Linked DNA regions of Homo sapiens: all the other regions are reported to be linked to region 1. The links are microRNA targets in miRTarBase. Many come from high-throughput screens and were not tested one by one. Region 1 holds a microRNA gene; each other region holds the end of a gene's coding sequence.

Region 1 (7,198 bases):
TCCTATAAAGGGCCAAAATACTCTTGCAAGAAGCTCCACCGCACAGGCTGTGTGACCTTGGGTGAAATACTTAACTTCTCTGAACTTTAACTGTAAAATAGAGTTTCAAGTTCCCTATTTTAAAAAGGAGGATAATAATAGTACCTTCTTTATAGACTTACTATAGTGATTAAATGAGGTCATATGTACAGCATATGCTCCATAATCTTTTCCTGCTTGGAAGACAGCCTGTCCATTGTGAGTGCTGGATAGGTGTTTGTTAGGTAATGAAATAAAGTACATCTCAAATGTTACTCACTGTCTTTATCCTCTCTTGTAGCCTGGAAGCTTTTCCCAGCTAAAGACAATATCTTCAAACCCCCATATTTAGTAAACTATTCCTGGTTTTGGTAGCAGTTATAAATATCTGCTCGTTAAAAAAAAAAAAAAGTGATGTTTTGCTACCAATGAGTCATTTAAAAATATTGGCCTGAAAGAACCAACATTGAAGATATTCATATTTTTTCATACTTTCCTAGGCTATTATTAGGTCTCAATTACATCATCAGTGCTTATGACACACCATAGGCACTTAATAAACAGGTGCCAAGTGAATAAAATCTAGTGAGCAAATAACTCTTTATCTCAAATTACTAAAATGAATAATATTTTACAGGGAATAATTCTGTTTCTACATTATCACGTTTACTAAAAATGTTTGTCAAGTAGATGTTATATACAATTTGAATAAAAGTTTTTAAACGTCTCTGGAAGACATGCTTATAAGGCCCTACATTAATTAACGTACCAGTCAATCAACAGGTGTCAATTAAACCCCTAGTAGTGCTCCTCAATGTGCTAATGGCGGAGTGTATTTCAAAAGAAGTATAAGATACATCCTCAGTGGATTTACAGACTAAATGGAACAAGGACATAGCTAACACTGTGGTTCCAAACCATTTGATCAGCACTCTGAGTGAAGTAGCTTGAGAGAGGTCAGAGCACCAGGAACTGGACTAGTTAAGGTCACGTCTTAGAAGAGGCTGATACATGGGAAGAATTCACACAGATGACACATGAGAAGAGAAGGCAGTCACACACTCATCCTGATACCTCACGGCTCATACTGCTTTGCTCATACTCAACACACTAAACTGAACTGAACTCCTCTGACTGCAAAACCAATAGCCAGGAAGCCAAACCTGCAATGTCCAGTGGCAGCCGGGGAGGCTCAGGAGACAGGATCAATTACAACAGGGCTTCTTACGGGAAAGTGGTCCCCACACTGGTGATTCAGCTCACATGCCCACAGACTGACTGGGCCAGCTTGGCTTCCATTGACTGCCATCCCTCGCCTGGCTCTCCTGACTGCACCCTGACCTATTCCCAATCCTTTGGTCTTTCTTTTTTGGATAGATTACTATGGATTTCTGTTGCTCCATTTGACTTAAACATTAGTTTCCAAATAAAATATAAGCCAATTCTCTGCACATTTTGAAGTGGCTCACTCAAGGCTGTAATGTTTAAAAATTGATATTCCTCAGAGGGTTTTGTATATTTTTTCCCCTACTTCAGAAATAATTAGGGGAGTTATATTAAACAGGTCTAAAAGAAGGTACCTTTCTTTTAGGCATTTTTTTTCCCTCTCATTCCCCAAACATTCCATTACTATTTTATCCCTTCTGAGCCTAGCCAGAAACTTGGCCTCCTTTGACTCCCAAACATACCAAGTTATTAAAAATACCCTTCAGCCAATATTAAGGAAGGGTCAGTAAAATGAACTCAGCATGGGGCTTAAGCAGAGCACAATGATTTCTTTGACTTAGTGAAGGAAATGAATGAGGATGATTTTGGACGGCCAGTTTCTTTCACTAATCTGTTGCTGGACTCTATCAGACATGAATGTTTCTCCCTGTCAGATTTCCTAATATTTCTCCATTGTGCTGTCACCGACATGAGAGTTAACTGGCATGAGAAGAGCTCATCTCACTCAAAAAAAAAGTCAACATTCCACAGAAAGTTATGGGACCTTCAGTTAGTATTAAGAGGAAAGTGAAATTAGAAGCTTAGCACTCACAAGATTTATACAGGAAAAGAAAGGCAGACACACTATTTTCAGGCTGCTGCTAATTAAGTCTTATTTGGATTGGAGCCTTCTGAAAGGAATCAACACATCAGGAATGGGTAAGCTAACAGGGAGGAGACAGCTGCTGAATATAATTCTGGAGAGAGCAGCCCTGCTGCTTAGATCTCAGATAACACAGAGGTTCAGTGTGTAATTGACTATGGAACAAGAAGAACATTGTTTTGTAAAAGAAGGTACCATTGCTGGGGTCCACAGAAACAGTTATGGTTCTTACCTCTGAAGGAGAACTGTGTTTAACTGTGGCTTTTAGATTTAACTTACTAAATTTGTATTTGCTGCAAAAGTAAACCACACTCAAGAGTAAAGCAAAATTCATCAGCAAGGCTATAATTTTGCAGAGAGAAATAAGAAGGGTGTATAATATTTAAATCGGAACTCAGCATCCCAGCAAAGAGCTTCTTAATCAAAACAAAAGAGAAAAAATCATTAAATACAGTAACCCACTGAGATTCACATGAAGGTATGTCCCACAACTTTCATAAATCCCGAATTTATGATACCACTATAATATACTATTACTCCACAAGAAGTAGATGTGAATAACACCCAAGGATTACTGTGTATGATACAGAAAACCAAAGAGAAGAAAAGCTGCATGGAGAGCAGCTGCTCTGACTGTGTGTGCAGTGCCTCATTCACCAACACACAATTCAAATTCAAGCCTCAGCAAAATAACTTGTCGTAAGCCATGATCCTCTATAAGGTCATCTTCAAATAGACGAAATAGTGACATTTAATTCATAAAGACAAGGTTCTACTCTCTTGCTGAGCAAGTAATCCAATCAACTGTGGTTTAGTTTCATCAACTTTGGAGAAAAGGCAATTTTCTTTCAAGATTTGACACCCTTCATACCCTCTGCCTATAATTCCAGATGGTAGGTGTAGGTGGTAGAAATGTTAGGTTGAGCAGAATGATAGTACCTAAAGAAGAATGAATAGTACCAGGAAATGCATGACTCATGGCATTCTAATTTTCTTGAAGTTCTTTTGTACATTTGCATCAAGATTTTCCACAAAATTCAATCCTGACTTTAATTGTAAATTAAAGAGTCCTTTATTGAATTTCTATTATTGCAGAGCAGTTACGCCACATGAGGTATAATAGAAGCTTATAATGTCATTGAGAGGCCAGGAAAAAACACATGTGCAGAGAGCAATATACCTGTGGCTGTCAGCCTGTAACATAGGTAACCTGTATCTGCAGTCCTAACTTGATTCTAAATCTCATAGTGCCTTCTCTGTTTTTCCCAAGGAGAAGGCACCATGGGATTTAGAACCAAGCTAGGGCTAGAGACATATGTTACAGGCTGTGAAAGTTCTACCAAAGTTCCTACTTTAAAGAATGAGCAAAAAGAGGCGGGGCATGGTGGCTCACACCTGCAATCTCAGCACTCTGGGAGGCCGAGGTGGGTGGATCACCTGAGATCAGGAGTTCAAGACCAGCCTGGCCAACATGGTGAAACCCCATCTCTACTAAAATTACAAAACTTAGCCAGGCATGGTGGAGGATGCCTGTAATCCTACCTATTCAGGAGGCTGAGGAAGGAGAATTGCTTGAACCCAGGAGGCGGAGGTTGCAGTGAGCCGAGATCGTACCACTGCACTCTAGCCTGGGTAACACAGTGAGACTCCATCTCAAAAAACATATAAAAATAAATACAGATAAAAAGAATGGGCAAAAAGAGATACTGGCTAAAGTCTTAAGCAATAAATTCATCAAAGGCAAAAAGACAGGTAAGTGTGTGTGGCTTTAAGGAACCATTAACTGAACCATTTTATTGGAGCAAAGGGCTCATTTAAAGGCATGAGTGAAAATGACAGATGGAGTAATGGTCATATTCCTTTCATTATTACACTTTAGACAACAAACCTTTGTGCTCCATTGCACTTAAATACCAGGAAAACACTTACCAAAGAACAATATTAACACATTTATGCAACCATATGATCTTTGCATACAGATCACAGCAATCAAGCTTCCAACCTTTTGTTGCATGCCTACTATGTGCCAGGAATTGTCCTAGCACTTCCCTTCCAATTCCCTATCCTATTTAATCGCTTCACATTCTACCACTCACACAAATTGTAGATTTATTTTACTCTCAGCCCACATAAAATACTCCAACCTAACAATTTTTAATTCTATCGGCATGATATTCTTTCATCCATCTAATGTTTCTACCTTAGATCAGAACCATTTCATATTTCAATTCCTACATTACCCCCTAGACTCCAGGCTTATAGTTTTATAAAATAAGATTGTAAAATAAAAACCCATCTTCTCCCTTCCTCCAGAAAAGGAGAGAAGTAAGTGTGTAATAGCTAACATTTATAATGATTTTACTATGCTGAGTGCTTTCTACATAAAGCTGTTTCATTTAATGGCTCAGCAACACTGTTGAAAAAGGAAGAACCTGGAGTATGGAAAGACTGAACAACTCCCACCAGGTTCATGTAATCAGTAATTGGTGGAGCTGGAATTTTTAATCAGGTCCAACTCAGAACCTAAATCTTTTAAGATCACAAGCTTAGTCATAATATTCAATTCAGTGCCTTTTCTTTGCCTATAAAATAAACCACATTTTTTGAAGTAGTGGCAATGTAACTCTTGAATTAGATTGTGTGGGTTCAGATTTCAAATGTATCATTTGCCACCTGTGCAAATTTGGACATCATAATTAATATCCCTAATCATGAATTTATCATCTATAAAATGGATAATATTAGTTTCTTTACACACCATTGTTATAAGGTTAGGAGATAATTCATGTAAAATGTATACAGGGCCTAATATAGTAAGTGCTTAACAAGAACTGATGAAGGAATAATGGTTAGGTACATAAATGAATGAGTGAATGAATTTCCTTTACATACATCTCTTTATATAAATATATCACTTATAGTAACAAGTGTAGGTAAGGACACCTACTCTATCCCTCATTGTTAGGGTTAAGAACTGCTTGCATTATTTTTTAGGAAAAGCCATTAAATGCCTTATACTAAAGAGAAAATAATGGGAGGCATTATCGTAATCATTATCATCATGATTTCATCAAAACTGATGAAAACCTATTACATGTAAGATATCAAGGTTAAAAAAGAGACATATGGCAAAGATGCCATCTTAAAACCTACATAGTAATGCAGTATGTGTAGATTGATCAGTGAATAATTAGATTGTACAACTGCAGTGGAACAAAAGTTCTACCATTCCTGTTGCTCATACATAGAAATGCACATGAGTCACCTACAAGCTTCCTGATTTGCTTTTGCTTTCTCCCCAGCTATTACCCAAACCTAAAAGTATGATTTTTACAAGTTAATAATTTTCTTTTAAGAGGTGTTGTCAAAGTTTCCTCTCAATCCTAATTTAAGGTAAGTATAAAATTATAATATGAAAATCCAAGAATTCACGTTTTAAAAGGAAAAAAGATAAACCAGTAGCAAAGAGCTGGTAACAGATGGCGACTTAGCAGTTAAAGCAGCATTTTTATTATATTCCAGATAGTAAAGTTTTTCTATGACTCTACTGTTCAAATGAACACCCACAGGTTCACCATCTAGAAGTGGTATGTCCCCTAACTTTAGAGAACAAGTTGATTCACAGAGTTCAATACCCTCAAGGTCATTTACTTTCTCTAAATGTCTACCCTCCCCACAACATGCCCTTTTTCCCCCTATTACAAATCAACCAATCTTACAGCTCGCAGAACAGAATTCACTGAATCTTAAAATAATACTATCATATTATTGCCAGGGAAGATGAACTGTGGCTTTTCTCCACTTTTGGACTCAATGCTTTGCATTTATTGTTTCCTTTTATGACCAGTCAGTCCTAGAAGCCAAGGTTAAAACAGAGGAATATCCTCCCAAAAGGAATGAAATAACCCCTTCACTGTTCACTCTGTTATATTTATTCAAGTTAAGAGATCTTAAATAAAGAGGGAAAGAATAGACAAAGGTAAAGCTAAAAAGCAGACTAAAGAAAACATGGAAAAGCAGAGGCGGCAATGTAACTAGGTTTAATTTCAGAGCAAATGAAAACAAAAATACAACATAAATGCCTACACTAGGAAAGAACATTCTCAAATAAGCAACATGACTTTACACCTCAAGGAACTAGAAAAAGAGGAAGAAACTAAACCTAAAATTATCAGAAGGAAGGAATTAATAAAGATTAGAGAAGTAAATCAAATAAGAAACAGACAACAATAAAAAAATCCATAAACAAGAGTTGATTTTTTGAAAGCATCAACAAAATCAACAAACTCAGCTAGGCTAATAAGAAAAAATGGAGAAGACTCAAATAAATAAAATCAGAAATCAAAGAGAAGATATTACAATGGATGCCTCAGAAATGAAAAGTATCATTAGGGACTATTGTGAACAATTATATGCTGACAAACTGGATAACCTAAAGGAAATAAATAAATTTCTACAAATATGCAACTTATTGAAGCTGAATCAAGAAGAAATAGGATAGTGTAGACAAACTGCACAAGGAAGACATTTATTTCAGTCCGTAATCAAAAGTGTCTCAAAAAAGAAAAGCTCAGGATGAGATGACTTCTCATCTGGTGAATTCTAATAGACAATCAAAGAAGAACTGATAACAATCCTTCTTTAACTCTTCCAAAAAAATAAAATAGGAGGAATCACTTCCAGACTCATCTTATGAGGCCAGGACCATCCTGATCAAAACCAGACAAAGATACAACAAGAAAAGGAAACTAAAAGCAAATATTCCTGATAAATACTGATGCAAAAATCCTCAATAAAATACTAGCAAACAGCATTCAACAGAACATTAAAAGGATCATACACCGTGACCAAGTGGTATTTATCCCTGGGGTGTAAAGATGGCTCAACATAAGGAAATCAATCAACGTGATACACCACACTAACAGAATGAAGGCCAAAAACAATATGATCATCTCAATAGATTCAGAAAAAGCATTTGACAAAGTTCATCATTCTTTCATGATAAAAACTCTCAACAAAATAGGTATAGAAGGAAATTGTTTAAACACAATACAGGCCATACATGAAAAGCCCACAGCTAACATAATAATC
Region 2 (7,198 bases), not on the chromosome of region 1:
ATGGGCAGAGAACAAGAGACTTAAGCACGGCCAAGGAGGGTCTTACATTAGAATTTTGAGAAATACAGCAGTTCTCCCCCTGTTCCCTCCCTTCTCTTATTGGAGGCAAAAGTAAAACTTTCAGTGTTGGTGTCTCTCTGCCTTTCCTTTTAGATTGAACACATATCTAGTCTCATCAAACTCTCCAAGGTAAGGAGTCTTAAGGCCATCTGCAGGGAGGAATGGGACGGGGTGGCGAGGAGGGGTGGCACATGCACCTGATTGGCCTCATTGGAAAGCTCCCCAGCTTCTCAGTGGGGAATGGGCAGTGTGGACTAGAGTAGGAGTTGCATTGTTGCTATTTTGTTTTCAGTCCATTTGGCCTAAGACCCCTCCAACAAAGCTACTGTGTCAGGGTGATCTCTGACTAGTGGATACTGGTCCCTTTAATCATGTGCTTTGATTTTAGGCCGACGTGGAAAGGAAATTATCACAGATGATTCTTGACAAGAAATTTCATGGTAAGTAACAGTCACACAGGCAAGGGGGCTGGTGGTGGTGATGAGATGGTTGAAGAAGTTTATTTTCAAAGAAGATGTTCTATTTGTTTCCCCCGATGGTTCACCCTGGGGTCCTGGCCCCTCTTCCCTGTGATGAGAATGTGTAATAAGCATGTGTACATGGAATAGGGAGATGAATTCTATTTCCCTTCTTTTCTGGACACAGTGAGTCAACTAGGGAGTGGGCTGCTTCACAAACACTTTTGTGTCTAACCTCATCTTTTACCTGGGTTGCCCTTGTGTTTCTTGCAGGGATTTTGGACCAGGGGGAGGGTGTCCTGATTATTTTCGATGAACCCCCAGTAGATAAAACTTACGAAGCTGCTCTGGAAACAATTCAGAACATGAGCAAAGTAGTGGATTCCCTCTACAACAAAGCCAAGAAACTGACATAGGTGAGTGCTGGCTTCAGGACCCCAGGGCTGGGCAGCTCTGTCTTCTGCGTGTCGAGACTGAAAACCTCCTCCTGGTGTCCTCATGGCTTCCTGATTGACACTGCTCTGTCTTCTCTTGCAGAGTTGGATCTGTAGCGGTCCTTTGGAGAGTGTGTGTGGCGGGAGAGTGAAACCTTGGGGGAAAATGCTAGGAGATTCTTTTTTCTTTTTGTTCTACTTTTCGCTCGGAAAGTTTTTAAATCCTCATTTGGTGCATCTGTATTCCAGCCAATAGGTGTGCCAGTTTTCATGTAATCTTTACTGGCCCAACTTGGGAGTGGGGAAATTGCTTAAAAAAAAAGAAAAAGAAAAAAAAAAAGATTATTCTAAATAAAAGGAAAAAGGCTTACACTACCTAAAGCTGTGCTCTCTGCCTCCTGGGAGAGGGCCGCAAAGCCAGGCACCCCGCCAACCACTGGGGGTCCTAATCCACCTGCTGGGCATCACCTCTCCTCCTCCTCAGAATTGGGTGTTTGCTGACCATCAAAAGCAATGACTTTTTATTCTGTTTGTACTGAACCAAAACAAACAACTGTGTATAGACTGCTGTTTTCTTTTTTATTTGAAATGAGGCATTTTGGTGTTCTTTCCCCTACCATACGGCCTGTCTGCCCTTCCCTCCCCACATTGGCTCCAGCAGAGTAGCCGAAGGTCCTGCCGCCGCCGCCACCACCACCACCACTGCAGCAACAACAGCAGCAGCAGCAGCAGCGCCTGCATAGCTCCACTCTGACCTGTGAAGGAATGGGGATGAGGCCAGGAGCTAGTGTCTACCACGGCCACACAGGGAGCAGTGTGGGCCCTTAGCCCCCAAGGGGCCTGCTATGCATGTGGCTTTTTTTTTTTTTTTAAACACAGTAAACTAGATTAGTCGTCAGTGTTTTAATTGCCCCTCTTCTCCTCTCCTGCATTCCTCTCCTCTCTTCTTTCCTCTCTGTCCCTTCTCTTTCCCCTCTCAACCAGGAGACCATCATGTCTCTCTGCCTTCCTCCTCTCCCCTCCAGGGGAGTCAGGCTGTCTGTGAAAGCCATGAGCTTCTCTCCCTCTCCCACTCCTCCTCTCCTACTTTCAGATGGATTTATTCCTTTTTTAAACAATGAACATCGGAAATGAGACTGTGGGGTGTGGTTTCTCTCTCTCTTTTTTTTTTAATTTTCTTTGTTGGGTTTTTGAGCAACCTCATGTCCCCTTCCCAGGGAGCTTTTTAATTTACCTCTTAGAACTCAAGTGGATGGGAAGTAGAGCACTATGTGTCAGTATGCTTTGTTTTCTGACACGATTACACAGCGAGGCTTTAATGCCATTTGGGTAGGTGAGCTTCTGCACTTCTGTTGTGCTGAACTGTATTTTCTTCTCTCATCTCCTCTTTGTCTTTTTCTCTTTTCCTCTCCTTCCTGCCTTCTTCTGCTGGCCTCCTTTTCTCTTTCTTTACCTTCCTTGGATTATCCTTCCAGGTTTTCATAATAAATTTATATTTTGTAAAAGGATTTTGTTGTACCAGGTTTTGCATCCTCACTGAATCTGACTGGCTTTTATTTTCCTCTCCAAAATCAGGTTTTTGTTCTCAACATCTTTCCCCATCATGTCTAGTCACTGTTTTGGTTTTGGCACCATCAGTATCAAATGTACAAACGGTTCTTGCTAACCAACACCAGGTATATCTGATGTTCAGATGAGTTCCAATAAAAATAATTTTTTTTTTTTTCAAAAGGTGTCTTTTTCTTGAGTGCTGGAGGGCTTCCAAGCAAGTCCAGACAGCTCTGTGTGGCCCCACACTAGTCTAGCTCTCATCTGGCCAAAGCTGTTATCTCATTTGTGTAATGGGAGTCCTTAAGGTAAATTTGGGGTCCAAACTTGGAGGGCTTTGGGGGCAAGAAAGTTGGTGTGTGAGTTCTGAGGTTGGAAATGAGTTCAGGTGTCTTCTTCCAGGGCAGCATGGTCCAGTGAGCACATGTAAGTTTGGGCAGTAGATCCTCTGAGCCTACTTTCTCTTCTACTCAGTGAGGATGCTGCTTCCTTGGCAGGTGATTGTGATGTGAAGCTTAGTAAGTCATAGACGTGCAGGTGTCTGGAGAGTCCTGACATGCAGTTGTGGTTTCGTTTCCTTTTGGAATCTTCAAAGGCAGCGATTTTCATATTGCCTCACACCCTGGCGGGGGCGGGGGGCTCTGGGACCACTGGGGGACCTGCTAAATCCTCTTCAGTCTGAGCAGTTCAGCCATTGTCAGTTTTAGTATTGTGTCTCTGTATTTCACTTGCAGAAAGAGCTTTGCTTCTATAAAGGACTTTAAAAAGTACTCCAAAGAGATCTAGTTTTGGAGTAGAGGGGAGATGTTTTCTCAAACTTAGGGCAGTCCTGAGATGCTCAGGCAGTAGCCCTTTTCTCAGTTCCCTTTGCGGGTCTTGGTCAGATGATGCCCTCTAGACCCGTGCTGTCCAATATGTAGCCGCTAGCCATGTGCAGCTGTCAGGCCCTTGCAACGTGGCTGGTTCGAGCTGTGATACACTGCAAGTGTAAACACAAACCAGACTTCGAAGGCTTAGTATGATAACAAAAGAAAAGGAGTGTAAAATATGTCAATAACTTTTTTATATATGTGTTGAAATATTTTGGGTATTGGGTTAAATAAAATATATTATTAAAATTCACCTGTTTCCCTTTTACTTGTGTAATGTGGCTGCTAGAAAATATAAAGTTACCTATGTGGCTTCTATCTGGACAGCGCAGCTCTAGACCTCCAGGACCAGCAGTTGTGTCACTGCCTCCTCTCCCAGGCCTCTCATGACCTGAGTCCAGGCACAGCTGGGAAGGTCAGCTGGCCGGTGGGCTGGCCTGGGCCCGGCTCCCTCACCTCCCTTCTGGGCTCCAGCCTTCATGGTGCCAGGACTTTCTTGTGTGTTAATGAGACTCTACTGGAGTTGGGAGCAGAGGCTCTGGTCCCCTGCTGTGTGCTAGTTATGTAATCTGTGCTGCTCAGAAGGGCCACTAGATGCTGCTCTGTGATCCCTGAAAGAACAAAGCCGACTTCCTCAGGAGTAAGGGCTCAGGCCTGCTCTATTTGGAACCCTTCTTGGAAGCTGTAGCTGGCCCCCGCCTTGACCTCCCTCCCTCGGGATGCTATGGGAAGTGGGGCATGCAGGAAGAGTGGACTCTCCGGCAGTCCACGGGCAGCCCAGCCCAGCAGGGAAGCTAACAAGCAGGCTGGCCCTTCAGGCAGCTAGAGATAGGCAATAGGCTAAGTAGGCTGATTGATGGGGGTGGGATTTGGAAATCTTCCCTGCAGTTCTATGATGAAGGCAGCTAGGAAGAAAACAGCTCTGCCTCATTCAACTGGGTCTGCCTTCTGGGTCCTTGGTTCTGCCATTTCTGGCAGTTGACTGTCCTTTCTTCCTTGCTTCCAGTTGGAGCAGTGATAGGAACTGGGGGTGGGGAGGTGGTGGTGGGTTGAATGAAAAGAGGAGCTCTGTGGTGTCTGAAAACCAGCATAACAGGCATGGCCTGGGTGATAGGAGCTCCTGGAGACCCCTCCCTTAGTCGCAGCAGCAAGTGGGCTGCCAGTGCCATCCCATTCCTGCTGTGCTGCAACTGTGACTTTGCCTTGGGCAAGTGTGAGGAGGCTGGTGTTCTGCCGAGAGCTCTGTTTGAAGGTGCTAGGGAAAGGCTGGCTGGACAAAGGTGAGAAGACACAGGGTATGGCCTGGCTTGAAAAGGCCCATGCAGAGGCATGCTGCTGCAGAGTGGGAAGCAGGGTAGTGGGGTGAGCTTGGTCCGCCTCCCCGTGAATTGGAATAGCTAGAATTGAGATTGAGAGTTAAAGGTAACAGAGTGGGCCCAGGTTTTTCTAGGGGGTGGATTTTTCTTTTTTTAGCCGAAGTGTCACTCTGTCACCCAGGCTGGAATGCAGTGGCACAATCTCAGCTCACTGCAACCTCTGCCTCCCGGGTTCAAGCTATTCTCCTGCCTCAGCCTCCCGAGTAGCTGGGATTATAGGCACCCGCCACCACGCCCAGCTAATTTTTTTAGTAGAGACGGGTTTCACCATGTTGGCCAGGCTGGTCTCAAACTCCTGACCTCAGGTGATCCGCCCGCCTTGGCCTCTGAAACTGCTGGACACAGTGTGGCCATCACGCCTGGCCGGGGTGGATTATAGGCTTCAAAATTTGGACATATTTTGGGAAGTGGAAAACATTTAACCTTGGCTCAACACTAGAATCTGAAGGGGGGCACAGAGCCAACTCAGGAGCTAGAGGCTCCAAGTAAGGGCTGAGGAAAAGAGGCTGGGGTTCGGCTTTCCTTTGAGAAGGAAAAGGGACACTTGGTCAGGGTCTCGAAGCAAATCGTTTCTTCTGGCTTTTTTTTTTTTTTTTTTTTTTTTTTTGAGATGGAGTTTCGCTCTTGTTGCCCAGGCTGGAGTGCAATGGTGCAATCTCGGCCCACTGCAACCTCTGTCTCCCAGGTTCAAGCGATTCTCCTGCCTCAGCCTCCTGAGTAGCTGAGATTACAGGTGCCTGCCACCACGCCTGGCTAATTTTTTTTGTATTTTTAGTAGAGACGGGGTTTCACCATGTTGGCTAGGCTGGTCTCGAACTCCTGACCTCAGGTGATCCACCCGCCTCGGCCTCCCAAAATACTGGGATTACAAGCATGAGCCACTGCGTCGGCCTCTTCTGGCTTCTTACTGTTACATGCAGGAGGGTTGAGGACAGCTCCATTTGAAGAGCAGGTAGGCTTGTACACTGAGGAACATTCACAGGGAGGGGCGCACTGAGCTGGGGGCCTGCCTTCCTCTTCTGAGTTCCCATAACAGCTGTTGTGGATGTTCTGAAAGGCTGTGGACAAAGTAGCCCTCTGGGTACAGAGCAATGCATTTTCCACTGTATGCCTTGCCCCCCAAGGTTCCTAAAGCCTGGAATTCCTATTGACAGAAATCTGAGTGGCACATAAACAAAACCCAGCACTTTCTGCCTTGATTGCACCATTTTGAATGATGCCAGATTCCCTTTCTGTTCCCCCTAGGACAGTTGACAGGGCTGGTGAAAGCCTAGTCGGCTGGAGTGGTCAGGTAACTGGGTGGCATCCTCTCCTCTGGAGAGCCACTCCCTCATCTCTAGGTCCAGAGATAATCTGGATTAAGACAGGGCTTAAGTTTCCTGTTTCCCAGGTTTGTGGTCAGTTTTGACTCGATCTCCAGAAACAAGGTAAAATAGTAAATGAACAACAGCCTTTGTGAAGGATCTGGATTCACATCTGACAGGAACAGCTTTCAGAAACAGAATTTTACTCAATTTCGCTAGCATCAAGTTCTCAAATTATACATACTTAGAATTGAAAACGTTTAAGAGGGTCAGAAAGCTGGCCGGAGGGGCAGTTGCTTCAGCTTTAATATGACAAATAAGAGGGCGAGTGGGAACTTAGAGGTCATATTTGTGACGGGCTCAGGCTTGGCTACGGGCCACGCTTCTCTGGCTTGGATCTCTGAGGCCCACTTCGGCCGCGGTCATCTACCCATGATGAGGGAACGGAGGCCCCGGAGGGGTGGCCAGAACCGATTGGACTGTCCACTCGAGGTGCGCGTGGCACTCGGGAGGCCTCAGTAAAGGCGTCGCCTCTCCCCGCCCAGGGCCTTCTTCCCCGCGCTCCCTGGCTGCTTTCCACAGGGACGGGGATGTCAGGTGGAAGGAGGGAGCTCCGGACCCTGGCCTCGGCGGAGGGCTCCTCACCAGGCCAGGGCGGCAGCCTCAGAGAGGGCGGGCCGCGCGCTGCCAGGGCAGGGACTCGGCCGAGAGTGCCCCCGCGGCCGGCAGCTGCGGGCGCCGCGGCGGGAACAAAGGCAGCACGTGTCTGGGCGGGACGCGGGCGGGGTCGGCCCTCGGCTCCGCCCTGCTCGGCGCCCGCCCCGCGTCGGCAGAGTTGGGTTGCGCGGGCGCCGAGGACTCTCCGGCGGCCGGGCTGCTGTTGGGCGGCGGCGCGGAGCGGGCGGCGAGCTGTGCGGGAGGGGCGGCCCCGAGGGGCGGGGCGGGCCGACGCCGCGTGTCCCGCCGCAGCCGCGGAGTCCGGCTCCTAGATGGGGCCCGGCGCGTAGAGGTGCCTCCCGCTCGTTGCCGCGTCCTACCCGCACCGTGCGCGGCTCGAGCTGAGGACACCAACGGCCGCGACTCCCCGGCGAGACCAGGCCGGAGCGTGGACGGCGCGCGCGCCCCGCGAGGGAGGGCGCTGAGGCGCGC
Region 3 (7,198 bases), not on the chromosome of region 1:
AGCAGTGAGCTTCCCTCTGGCCCAGGGCAGGTCCAAAAATTCATCCAAGAGTCAAGTCCTAGAATCAAAGACCTCAGGATCACACTTAGTCCCTTCCTCCCCTTGCTGGTACCCAACATGTGGGAAAAAAGGTCCCCTTTACTTTTCCCTCAGCTTTTCTTAAGTAGAAGATTTTTGCCCCCTAGCCACCATTGCTGGTTATGTACAGAGTCTCACCTGAAGCCAGCAAATCTCAGAGGCTCACCAAGGCCCTTGATATAGTGCCTGGGTATCACTGTTGGTTATTCAGGGCCCAAGGGCTCTTCAGTTAGCAGGTGATAAATGCTGCCAGTAGTGGGTCCTTTCCTTCAAGGCAGCAGGTTCCATTCCCTTCTGGCCCAGAGTGTATCTAGAAATGTCACCTGGGAGGTAGTGTCTGGAACAGGGGCCTCACTACTCTGACCAGTCCCTTATTCTGTTGTGGCTGGGCTGGGATCCTACAGGCAAAACAAAGTCCTCCCCACTCTTCCCTCTCTTCTCCTCAAGTGAAAGGGAAGGGTCTCTTTTGGAGTCATGAGCTGTGCCACCTGAGGTTAGGGGAGGAGTGACGACAGAACTCCCTTGGCTGCCCCAGCTGGTTTATCTGTATGCCGTGTGCCCTTCCAGTCCATTGTCTATGGGCCTAACTCAACACAAGGACTTGCCTAAGAGTTTATGGCCTAGATTGCCTTTCAAGTTTACTTGGAGACACAGAGTGCCGTAGCCTCTAGCCCATGGTGGTGAGAGTTGCAGGAATTCAGGTTCCCACTAGGGCTGGTTTAAATTCTCCCTCTGTGGGAAGGATGAGTGTGGTCCAGTTTTCCTTTCTGCTGTAACAGGACAGCACTGAGTTCACTGCTTTACAATTGCTGTGTTCTCCCTCCCCCAGTGCTCAGAGGCTGCTGCTGCCTGGGGTGAGGAAGGGGTGGCATTTGTGATTCAGGACTGTTTTTTAATCACTTCAGTACCTCTTTTGGCAATATGTAGTTAATACCAGATACTATGAGTTCTCACCTGATTTTTGGTTGCTATGAAGATGTTTTTTCTGTGTACATATGTTAACTCAGTGTCCTTGCTGGGGAGGCAAGGGAATGATTGGTTTCTGTTCGGCCATCTTGCTCCACCCTCTTCCTGATATTTAGAGTTGGTTTGGATGTTTGGTTTGAGAGGCTTGTGAGACATTCAAGTGGGGATATTGGTCCTGAAGCTATGATGAGACCTCCAGACTAAAGATATAAATTGTGAAATTCATAGCATATAGGTAGTATTTAACGCCACAGAAATGGATGAGATCACACGGGGTGAGAGCACTACACAAAAGAGGCAGCAGAGTTATTAAACACTGAGAAATCGTGAATATTTAAAGGATGATTAGGAGAAGAGGAGCCAGAAAAATAGACTCTGAAAACATTGCTGGAGAGGTAAGAGGAAACTAGAATAGAGTGGTATCATATAAGTTATAAGAATAGAATTCCAAGCCCAGTTTCAAAAAAGAGGGGATAGGCCATGGTATTTAATGCTGCTGAGAGTCAAGTAACTGAATACCAGAAAAGTGTCTGATATGGTTTGGCTCTGTGTCCCCACCCAAATCTCATCTTGAATTGTAATCCCCACGTGTTGAGGGAGGGACCTGGTGGGAGGTGATCAGATTGTGGGGACAGTTTTCCCCATGCTGTTCTTGTGGTAGGGAGTTCTCATGATAGTGAGTTCTCGTGAGACCTGATGAGTTAAAAGTGTGCCACTTCCTCCTTCTCTCTCTCTCTCTCTCTCTCTCTCTCCTACAGCCTTGTAAGGAAGGTACTTGCTTCTTCTTCACCTTCCGCCATGATTGTAAATTTCCTGAGGCCTGCCAGGCCATGTGGAACTGTAAGTCAATTAAACCTCTTTCCTTTACAAATTACCCTGTCTTGGGAAGTTCTTTATAGCAGTGTAAAAATGGACTAATACAGTGTCCTTTGAATTTAGCATCATGCAGGTGATTGGTGAGCTTGACAAGACTTATTTCAGAGAAGTGTTGATGGCAGAAGTTAGGTTGGTGTGGGTTAAAGGGAAAGAGGACTTCCACTTTTAGCAAATCAATAACTAGATATTCCACAGGGCCCAGCTGCTACAAAACAAATAGATTCTCAATATAACATTCTTTGAATGTTTTGTTGGGATTTCAGAAAATAAAGGAAATTTCCAAGCCACCCCTTCATATCTGTTTCTCCAAAACAGGGAGATCTGAGTAGTAAGCAAGTAAGATTCAGAAAATATGCTTTGAGCAAGACATAAGGTAGAAAAACTCAAGCCAAAACTCTTACAATAAACCAAAGTAGTCCTAGGTTAGGGGGGGTTCTCTATTTCTCCAGCAGAAGCATTTAAAAATGCCCTCATTGGGCAAAGAATACCCTATTTAGACTCCTAGGTTTACATAGAGTATAACCAAACACATGTGAACACACAATAGGAAATTACAAAAGATGTAAAGAAATAAGCCGTCATGAGTGAGAATCAACAGAATAGGTTTAGATCCTCAATACTTCAGGTTGTGAAATAATTAATAGATGATAAAATAACAATGATAAAAAATGAAAACAGAATCACAAAAAGCATGCCATATGAGATTACTAAAAGGTAAACAGGCATATTAGGAGAAAAAAAGCCAAATAAGACTTTTTAAAAATCACTGAAATTTAAAACCAATTGATAGCTTAAACCTCAGATCAGACAGAATTATCAAGACTATACCAATACTACTTAGGGTTATAGGCAATGTTGATGACATAAGACATCCCGAGCAGTGTTCATAAGAGAAAGGTGTATTCCTCTCCTATATTAACAGGACAAGCTAGGTAGGTGGGCTCTGTTTTGCCATTCTGTACATGTGACTTCATCTTTGGGTCTACAGCAATTGTCCCAGTCATCTTCAGCCATATGATTCAAGGTAGCAGCAAACTAGCAGCAAATTAACTTTCTAGCCCATTAAAAGGGAGAAGCAGAGTATTAAGGGCAAATAACTTCAGATTTCTAGGGAATGAATATTAAGTTGTACATATCACTTCTGCTTATATAAAAGTAACCAAAACCTAGCATTATCGCCACATGTAACTGTAGGAGAAATTGGGAAATTTACTCTCTATCTGGGTGGCCATTTTCAGCTAAAACCTGGTGGTAGGCTAAAATGAAGATGGGGAATATTGATCTTGGGATATAACAGCAATTTCCAAAGCAAAATAGAATGATATGGAGATAGAAACTGGGACAGAGCGGTTACATGATATGAGTAGTGTGAGAAGATCTAAGATCTAATATAGGCCCGATCAAAGTGACAGGAATGATTTTTAAAAAGTGGAAGAAAGGAAATATTGGGGAAAAATGGCTGGAAATTTTTCAGAATGAAGAAAAACACATATCCACACATAAATGAAACACAACATAAAACAAGCAAGAAAAACAGAAATTTACAATTAGATATTCTGAAGTGACTATAGATACTGAAATCGGGACCACCTTAAAATAAACAGAAAGAAGAAATCACTCTACAAAATAACCACAAGTAGACGAATAGCTTTCTTATCAACAATGAAAACCAGAAAAGAGTTAATATCTTTAACATGTTAACCTGAAATCAGGAACACAGCAAAACTACCTTCCAACAACAACAAGGAACGATCTTAGTAAATAAAAACTGAGTTTACCACCAAGAGACCTTCTCCAAGGGAATTTGAGGTACAATCATGGGAAACAAAATTGTTAAACCAAAACACTGGATAATAACTTGAGAGTTTATAGATAAGAGATCAGGGTTAAAGTTTCCTAAGGTCCATAGTATCATTAAGAAGGAGGGTTAAGATACTAATATTAGATATTTTTAAGTTAAATATGGTAAGTTTTGAGAGTAAAAGCATGGGTATAGAATTAACATCCTAACTGGTAGAGGGGAAAATATCATGAAATAAGAAGACAAACAAATATTTAGTCAATTAAAGAACTGAGAAGTGAAACATAGAGAAATCAAAGGAAGTGGAAAGCACAAAATAGGATAGCAGGAAAAAGTCCAATCATACAGTGTTAATATATGACAATGATAATAGAAAAAAATAGACTTTAAAGCAGAAAAGCAGTCACTACAAACAAAAGGTTCAATTCATTAAGATGATATAACGATTCTATATTTGTTTGCATGTCATAAAATTGCTCAAAATACATAAGATGATAATTGATAAAATTTCCTGAAACAATGTTACAATGGGAGATTTCAATAGTGCTCCCTCATTTGATAGGACATAGGGAAAAAACACAAAATAAATATCTCTAGATTTTATAAAGAAGTTATCAAATATTCTATTTTTATAGTCTTCCTCTCACTTTTTTCTCTCTCAGTGTATGCGTAGATTCCTAATCTTTTCAAGTCCTTAAGAGAAAGTATATAAAGCTCTAATGCTGGTTTCATTTATTCAAACACTACAAGTATCTACCATATGCTGGACACTGTGCTAGGCTTCTGGAAATAAAATAAATGACAGATACGGCTTCCACTTTCATGTTGCTTTTGTTTATACCCTTGGGCATTTTACTTAATCTTTTAGCGTATATTCATAAGAATACAGTTTTGGTGTGAAGATTAAATAAGATTATGTATGTAATGAACATATGGAGACTAAAATAACAGAATAATAAATGGTAAGTATAAAATAGATTTTAAAATGTTATTTCTTAAGTCTATTGTCAATCTTTACAATTTTATTGTAAATCATAGTGTGAGATACAGCTGCAAATATAGGGAAGTAAGTTCACAAACTGTTATTTTCTAAAGCTAAAGCTAACATTAGGCCTTGCTATGGTAGAACTCTTCACTGGGTTGTTTCTTAAAAAAAATTCACGCAACTGACAGGAGGAATTGTCTTTATTCTTGCATTAATGATAAATGTAATCTACAAGATGGCCTTCATGGATTAGAAAAAGGAATCAGACCACAAGGAAAAAGAAATTGCTGGTTTTCACTCAAGATTTATCTAGAAAAGTGTACTGACTACTGGAATAATAGTTTACCCCTGGGTTGTACCACAGAATGAGAAATTCTACAAGATTATACAACTCTTTTTCTACAAGATTACACTACTCATATTGTTTTTATTCCATTCCGGAATTAGAAATTAACTTTCTAAATATCATTTTTTTCTCCAAAAAAATCCTCTTACCAGCTAACCTGGATATGGACAAAAATATCTTGATTGCTGTAAAGGTCTATCTCCCTAGTAAAAATGAATAAATTGCCCTTGAATTTATTCAAGGCAATCACTATCAGCTGTGGAACACCCAGGTAAACTAACACAACTAGGTTCCTACACACAAAACAAATATTCTAAACTGTTTCCACAGGGCAGCCACCAAGGGAAAAATAAGGAAATTTAACTATTTTATTCTAAACACTTCATTTACATATAAGGCAACTGTGGCCCCAAGGTTGTGATTTATTAACCTAGTTAACGGCAGAAGCTGCACTAAAACCTGGATCTTCTACTTAAAATGTTGTTTTGGCCAGGCGCGGTGGCTCACGCCTGTAATCCCAGCACTTTGGGAGGCCAAGGCGGACGGATCACAAGGTCAGGTGTTTGAGACCAGCCTGGCCAGCATGGTGAAACCCCGTCTCTACTAAAAATACAAAAAATTAGCCGGGCATGGTGGCCTGCGCCTGTAATCCCAGCTACTTGGGAGGCTGAGTCAGAATTGCTTGATCCTGGGAGGCAGAGGTTGCACTGAGCAGTGATCACACCACTGCACTCCAGTCTGGGTGACAGAGCGAGACTCCATCTCAAAAAAAAAAAAGTTTGATTCTTTTATCATCAAGCATTAATTTAATATCCAAAGGCATATATTCGTATTTACTGTGCTTTAAACATTTGTCTGTGCGTCAATGCTTTAAAGGGACATACTATGTGGTGATTCATTTTCAAAGTAAGAATTTGCAGAAAATGAGAAACAAACTTTCTGAACAATACAATTTTAATGCATACTAAGGCTGGTTAACTGGTTAGAATACTAGGTTAACAAGGCCAAACTCCAGATAGGCCAACAGCTTTTCAAACCAATATTCCTGACACTGCCAGGAATAAAGAAAACTCTTCACTACTGAGGGAGGGACAGAAAACCTAGAAAAATAAACCATACTAAAAGAAAAAGGGTATTTTGTTTGTCACTTTAAAGCTGCTTTTTCTTTAAACGGTACACATATTTTCAACATTCTTACAAATGGGCCTTCTATTAAAAAGCAAACTATTGCTAATTCCATGGCTTTAAGTGGAGTACTTCCAATCACTTCCTCTATCCAGAAAATCCGTGACACTACATGCCAGCTACTTTGCATATTTATAACTGTTTAATAAACTATTCAAAATTAGCATCTAAAATAATTATACTTTGGACACACGAAGGCATATATTTGGTGAGAACATTGTAATTTTCATTTTGTAAACTATATATTCTATATTCAAGTAATAACACAGCATTGCCTATACAGAACTGAGGCCTGCGCTGAGACCCAAAACTTGTCTTTTCCTAAATGCACCACTACGAAGAGCTAATAAGAGGTCTGTCCAGATGCTAAGACCAGGTACTTCAAAATCTCCATCCTGCGCTTTACAGGTCTCCAGGGCAGTTAGAACTTTATCTTTCAGAGGTGGAGGGGCCTGACAGAGGCTTTGAAACCTATTGTGCAACTCCTCCCAGGGCACATCTTGGGACTCAGTTCCAACCCAAATGCCTTTCTGAAGGTCATAGTGCAAACGTTGACCCCAGTCTGTTAGCAGACCCAGATAGACAGGAGACAGCGCTGGGTGGCGGCTAGTCACTAAAGTCAAAAGCCCGGCTGGGAGGGCGCGACAAAAGGCAGCAAAGACTTCCGAATTCCCCAGAAGCCAGTGGACTAGCACTTGGCTCCCCTCTCCAGGTGATTTGTGGATGCCGGGTTCCAACTCTTCTTGGGGCCGACGAGACAAAGGCGGCTGCAACAGCGCCACCGCTATCACCTTCAGGAAGTTGTTCTGAGGCAAGCGCTCCCACAGGCTGCTGAGAAACCTGGCGGGACGCTCCGCTTCGGCCTTCCCCACCTCCTGCAGACGCTCCAGCAGCAGCTCCGCCTGGGTCTTCATCAGAGAGTCCTCCTGGAGATTTGGGTTCTCTCTATAGCCATTGAAGC

What was found. Region 1 holds the annotated microRNA hsa-miR-605-3p (AGAAGGCACUAUGAGAUUUAGA, at 3,342-3,363, opposite strand). A microRNA usually pairs through its seed, bases 2 to 8, with sites in the 3' UTR of a target mRNA and lowers its output. Matches are read on the target gene's strand: a 7mer-m8 pairs with bases 2 to 8, a 7mer-A1 pairs with bases 2 to 7 and ends in A, and an 8mer does both.
Region 2: the mRNA of PSMD11 is a reported target of hsa-miR-605-3p. Seed matches in the 3' UTR shown: 7mer-m8 at 1,955-1,961 and 7mer-m8 at 2,369-2,375.
Region 3: miRTarBase lists FANCF as a target of hsa-miR-605-3p. Seed matches in the 3' UTR shown: 7mer-m8 at 6,431-6,437.

What each region holds. Positions count from the first base shown.
Region 1 is chr10:51,295,788-51,302,985 of GRCh38, reverse strand. MIR605 (microRNA 605) reads right to left here and starts at 3,413; the gene lies at 3,331-3,413. All of the region lies in intron 2 of PRKG1 (protein kinase cGMP-dependent 1), which reads right to left.
Region 2 is chr17:32,479,698-32,486,895 of GRCh38, forward strand. It overlaps PSMD11 (proteasome 26S subunit, non-ATPase 11), which reads left to right. Exons shown (of 14, transcript NM_002815.4): 11 at 154-189; 12 at 449-500; 13 at 792-934; 14 at 1,056-3,622. The coding sequence ends at 934. Among named protein-coding and RNA genes, the nearest start is that of CDK5R1, 3.7 kb to the right of the region's middle. RefSeq lists an enhancer at 6,082-6,583 and a silencer at 6,656-7,185.
Region 3 is chr11:22,618,174-22,625,371 of GRCh38, forward strand. It overlaps FANCF (FA complementation group F), which reads right to left. Exons shown (of 1, transcript NM_022725.4): 1 at 4,360-7,198. The coding sequence ends at 6,513. Among named protein-coding and RNA genes, the nearest start is that of FANCF, 4.0 kb to the right of the region's middle. RefSeq lists enhancers at 6,540-6,699, 6,710-6,759, 7,140-7,198.